Linked DNA regions of Homo sapiens: region 1 is linked to region 2. Evidence: fine-mapped expression QTL. A gene starts in region 2. The other region holds a variant in brackets. All regions are shown on one strand. Distances are between the middles of the regions.

Region 1 (2,914 bases), 76 kb before region 2:
GACAAGCATGTCACCTGTGAAAACTGGATGGGTAAAACAGCAACCTTCTGACAAAATGTGGCAAAGTATCCTAAGTATTTTAAGCTCCTGGAATGAATTAAGAATGAAATTTTACTTTTTTAAAAAAGATTTTACTCACGAAAATGTGTTCTAAAACTACTACCATAAAGCAAGATATTGGCAGTCCCTATAATGCCTATATTACCATAATCTAATTTTGCCTTCTTAAAAAAAAAAAAAAAAGAGAAGCAGTTAATTCAGATTCTTACCAGCCTCTTTAATAAACCAGTTTTTTATTTTTTATTTTTACCTGTAAAATAGCCACTTCATTACGGAGTTGACTTTCTTGTTTTGTGGGGAATCTCATCTTATCAATTACTTTAATAGCCACATCCCTCCCAGTCTTTCTATGTTTTCCTATTAAGAAAAAAAGAAGAGGAACGAATGAAGCAAACTGACAGCTTTATTAGGGAGTTGTCCACAGACTGAAATTTATATGTATTTACTCTTGAATTTTCTTTTTGGCTCATTTTTGTTCTTTCTCCACACTCCTTCACTCACCTTTAATTTAGGAAAAAATTGTTTTCCCCTCCATACATAATATTTGCCCCTAATAAAGTCAGCTGCATTATCTAAACAGGAGAAAATTTGAATGAACTTGTTGCTGAAAAGTAATCTACCTTGTTAAATCAATGATAGTTAATTACCCTGACCTAGTCCTTCAGAGACTCTGTCAAGATGGAAATACTGTATGAATGAATCAATTTTATTCTAGATTCAATGAGTCAGCACAGAGTGATTTAACCATGTACCCACAAACTCTGGGTGTCTCTATATTCTAGAATCTAGATATAAAAAATTTATATTTGTCTCTATATTCTAGAATCTAGATATTAAAAAAAGGTAGAAGTTTATTATAATGAACAGTCATTCCCTCATTTATTAATTCAAATTAACTAGTTATACCTATTATGTACTAGGTATGCCTTTAGATGCTACAGATTAAGCAGTGAAAATGACAGGTATATTTTTGGTATTTGTTCTTCAAATATGTATCTGACTTGCTCTTCTCTACATAGCTATTTATTTTAGATTAACTCATTTGTCTCAATGGCACAATCGTAAGTCTACTTGAAAAGACTGAACAAATGTGTGCATTTTTGGTAAGAAGCCAAAGGTACCTCGGACAGTTCTTTGTTCCTCTGATGACAGGAAGTCCTCCAGAGATGTAACTACTCTTAAAACTGACAAATCTGAAGTTGCAAACCATAGATATTATATATGCATGCAGAGTCAACACATTTTCTAGGCGACTGCTTTATGTCACAATACTAGGTGCTAGGAATACAAAGAAGATCCAGACATCTCACAGCCAACGCTCCAATAAAGTTCAGTGGGAAGACAATAATGTAAACCCAAAGGGTAATAGATATTGTGAGAGAAGTATGTTGGGTAGCAGGAGTACCAAAGGGGAACCATGTTTTTATTTGATGGAGAAATAGGTACGGGGACAAGAAATTTCCACAGAGAAAGCCCTTTAGTTGAGCCCTGAAGTATGAAAAAATGTGCACTAGAAGAGACAAAGGGATGGAGAAGGAGCAGAGAGGCAAAGGGTATGGAGGCATGTAAACAGGACTGAAAGATAGAAAGCAAAGAGGAAGCTGCAATTAGATCTGAGGCTAGAGAAGCAGGGATAAAT[T/C]ACAGCAGCCTTGAAATCCTCTGCTAAGAAAACTGGCTATGAATCTGTAGATGACTGTGAACCACTTAAGGGTTCTATGTGAGGTAATACTAATATCAGATGTGAATTTTCTGAAAGATTGACTCTAAGAGTTGTATGAAAAGAAGGTAAGAATGGAGGCAGAACAGCCAACTAGGAAACTACTGTACCAAGTCTTAGCAAGGGATAACAAGGGTTTAACATTTCTTTCTTAGTACCTTTACATATATTAAGTTTAATTAATATTTAAGCCCTATGAGCTACACAGGTCAGGTTTTATTAGTTCCATTAAACAGTTGAAGATGCTAACGCACAGTAAGGTTAAATGACTTCATCAATATCCTAAATCGCAAAGTTGGATTTCAGGTTCAGGTTTTCAGACTTAATAGAACAATCATGCCAACAGTAGACAAATGGTGCCATTTGTGTTGGAAAACTAGTAGGGAATATACTTCAATGAATAAGCCCACTCAGCCCAACATAAACTTCAAACCATCTCCCCCCCTGCCTCCGACAAACATCTGTATGTGTGAGCTACAAGAAGAGATAAAACACACTGTAAAATTTTCTGATTCTGTTAATTTTTAAAGTTTGCAATGACATTAAGGGAAGAATACTCAAATTACAGTGAGAAGGATTTAGCTGAAAGATAACAAGTCAGCCTTTAAAAAAAAGGCACTGGACAAAACTATGAGATGACAAAACAGCTGGCAGATGTTTTACATTTTCCAGTTTTTAAAATAATGTGTACAATATGCAAACGGCTGTAGTTGCTTACCTCCATAAACGATGCCAAACTGGCCTGAACCAAGCACCTCATCTGCAAAGATCTGGTAAACAGTACTGATATCCTGGTAGGATAAAGTAAGGAGTTAGTATTATTTATTTCTATAATACAATGTCAACATCTCTGACTTTCTTCATCCAAATACTTCAATACATTTTTATGTTAGAAGCAGCTAATTTCCATAAAGTGCAAACTATTTTATGAAAACACAGGCTTTCTATGTTCTAATAAGAGGTTAAGCCCAAATTTTATGTGCAAGTATAATGTATTGTGCAAGACTTTCAGGAAAAAAATGCTTTGCATTTTAAAAATCTTGTATTTAGGCCTGGCGTGGTGGCTCACGCCTGTAATCCCAGCACTTTGGGAGGCTGAGGCAGGTGGATCACCTGAGGTTGTGTGTTCCAGACCAG
Region 2 (2,914 bases):
GCTTGCAGGAAATCACTCCATGGAGGTGCAGAGATAAGGCCCCAGACATTTTGGCCCAGTATGGGACAACTTTGACCGTCTTTTTCAGCTTCAGGACTCCCATGGAGTTGGGTGAGGTTGTTGGGCCCGCTTTGCTGCTAACTTCTCCCTCTGTTCTCTCCTGTTCCCCTTCTTCCTCCCACAGGGGTTTGTCCCAAGGGCACTCCCTAATACACATCCTGCATGTTAAACTCTTGTCTCAGAGTCTGCTTCCTGTAGATACCAAACTGTAAGAACATCTTATTGACTTAAATATAACCAAAATTGGAGAAACTTAGGAAACAAAATCATCATTACGTTATGTGCTGACATTTTAGCTTATTTCTATATTTCTTGTTTTGAATTGCTCATACTTAGCATGATAGTACCTCTCACATTTTGTTTCATTTAGGTTTGCTATTTCCACGTTCTCTTTCTTATAGGAACCATATTGTGAAAAGACATAAAGGTAATAGGGTAAAAAAAAGCAAATAGGCTCTTTATTACCCAGCCACTCAGGAAATGCACTATTTCAAGGTTGACCCAGGCAGCAAGAGAGGAGCTGTATTGGGGAATGTGACAGTGGTTTAGTTCTGAAACTGGAGCCAGTAGAAAGTTCTGAAGGGGGTCCGATGATCAGAACTGTCTGTGGGTTTAATAAAGGTGTATTTAATTTTATTTAAGCCTGGAGATTTAAATTGTCACTCAAAACTCTCAGACATGAATAGGGTTAGCAAATCTGTACACCAGGAAAGGAGTTATTTACATCCTGTCTTCTCCTACAGCTCCAGAGGAGGGCAGAACAGTGTATTTCCAGGCAAGCCCTCTCTTTAAAAACTCATAGCCAAGGCTGGGAAGACAGAGTGAGTGGGTGGGCCTTCTGGCAGCTTCCTTACCTTCAAATCTTTGCTCTCTGTGAAATGGTTCTGCTTCAGTATCCTTGTTCTGATTTTTCTGGGAACTAGATGTTACTGGGAGATGACTCAGAGCAGGCCAAGCCCTGATCCTCACTGTGGAAGCAAAAGAGGCTGGTGAAAGTCACTGTCCTGACAACTTGGACCAGAAACCTACAGACAAAACTGAAATGTTTTCCTGCCCTAGGATTATCTGGATAACAATGACCTTTGATGTTACAAAGTAAATAGAATTGTGTTTGGCTTTTCCTTTTGGGGCCATGCCTTGGAGAAGATGACTCCTTCAGAGCCGCTGTGAATATTGTAGATCTCATTATTTCAGATAATTACTTTGACCATCCTTTTCAATTTGAGAGTATGATGTGAGGCAAGGCAACTATTTGTGAGAAAAAAGAGAAAAGGCAAAGATCCACTGTCATACTTTTGCTTGTGGGTTCCAGTCCAGGCTTTCTATGGGGGGTGGGGGGGTGTCTCAGTCTCCCCGTCTGTAAAATGGGATTAGTGGATTAAATCCGGGAAGGTTGGACAAGCACCTAGGACGGTGCCTGGTGCCGTGTTCAGCAGACGTCGATTCCCTGTCCACCCCTTCTTTAGGAGCTGTGGGAAACACTTCATAACTCCCCAGGGTCTGGTGAACCCTTCCTCCCTTTTCTGTTCCCTGTTTTGGCATTGGAGATCATAAAAAGGCTCTTCCATGTCTCTTGCTTCCTTCCTTTCATCTTCTCCAAGAGAAGGAAGTGGCCGCCTTTGTTAGCTTGGGTTCAGAAGCTTGTGTCTGTCACCCAGGGCCGCCCAGCCCCGGGGTTTGCGAAGGTCCGGGGTAGGAGGGCTGCAGCCTGCGCGACGCGGCGGGAGGCTACCCGGGGGCGATGGGAAGGCGGGCGCAGTCGACCCAAGGGTGGAGAAGAGGGAAGGCGAAGGACGCGCGTTCCCGGGCTCGTGACCGCCAGCGGCCCGGGGAACCCGCTCCCAGACAGACTCGGAGAGATGGCAGGCGGAAGACACCGGCGCGTCGTGGGCACCCTCCACCTGCTGCTGCTGGTGGCCGCCCTGCCCTGGGCATCCAGGGGGGTCAGTCCGAGTGCCTCAGCCTGGCCAGAGGAGAAGGTGAGGGGCTGTTTCTGCGTAGTTGTACTTGAGCGGCTCTGGTCCGATGCGAGGACCCCTGGCCGGGTCAGCCCTACCTAGGCAGAGCGGGAGGCGGGGCAGGGCCACGGTCCCCAGCCCAGGCACCGGCGCCCCACCCGGCGCCCGGAGGAGTCGGGGCTCTGCATACTCGCCGGGGTGCCTCGGCCAGTCCGGGGCTGTTCTGGAGACGCCAGGGGGGCTGGGTGATGTCACTGGCCTCTCCTGGGCTGCGGTCTGATGGGGGTGCTGATAGGCACAGGAAATGTGTCTCGCCGGCGGCTGCTGAGCCGGGAGGCGAGGGCGCATCGCGGCGCCACCCCCCACTCGGGACCCTGGAGGGCAACGGGGCCGGCGCTCCGGGGCCGCTAGGGTGCGGGGTGCGCCTGGGGGTGTGCCCACAGCCCCCCCGCTGCTTCATCCAAGGATGCTGCTGGGGCGCTGAAGTGTCCCTACAGTCTCAGGACGGATGTGTGTTGTTTGTTTTAGATTTTTAAAAGGAGCAACTCGGCAGGAAGGACCTTTACTGGAGACCTGCTTACTTCAAAAGCCTTTTTCCTCCACTTAAAAGAGGGTACCTGCTATTTTCAGAGAAAATGGATCTAGTTGTAGGTAGAAATCGCATATAAGGAACTTAGGATAAAAGTGATTTGCAAGTTCCCTCTGTAAGAAGTGTATGGGTTCGGCCGGGCGGGGTGGCTCACGCCTGTAATCCCAGCACTTTGGGAGGCCGAGGCGGGTGGATCACGAGGTCAGGAGATCGAGACCATCAGGGCTAACATGGTGAAACCCTGTCTCTACTAAAAAATACAAAAAATCAGCCGGGCGTGGTGGCACGCACCTGTAATCCCAGCTAC

Alleles and levels. Positions count from the first base shown, and alleles are read on the strand shown. Sizes are in standard deviations (SD) of each study's normalised expression.
For the expression in tibial artery of the gene that starts at base 1,818 in region 2, allele C in region 1 goes with a higher level than allele T (small effect, 0.33 SD a copy in GTEx).

The links. PIP is the estimated chance that this variant, and not a neighbour inherited with it, causes the effect.
Region 1: its variant is the best candidate, but not a certain one, in a credible set for the expression of QPCT in tibial artery (GTEx, PIP 0.67).

What each region holds. Positions count from the first base shown.
Region 1 is chr2:37,267,120-37,270,033 of GRCh38, forward strand. It overlaps PRKD3 (protein kinase D3), which reads right to left. Exons shown (of 19, transcript NM_005813.6): 13 at 2,496-2,568; 14 at 311-417. It also overlaps a transcript of NDUFAF7 not described here. Among named protein-coding and RNA genes, the nearest start is that of NDUFAF7, 37 kb to the left of the region's middle. The variant T/C (reference allele first, on the strand shown) is at 1,700.
Region 2 is chr2:37,342,813-37,345,726 of GRCh38, forward strand. It overlaps QPCT (glutaminyl-peptide cyclotransferase), which reads left to right and starts at 1,818. Exons shown (of 7, transcript NM_012413.4): 1 at 1,818-2,039. The coding sequence starts at 1,920. It overlaps LOC124907754 (a long non-coding RNA gene), which reads right to left and starts at 2,243. Exons shown (of 2, transcript XR_007086284.1): 1 at 915-2,243. RefSeq lists a silencer at 2,189-2,248.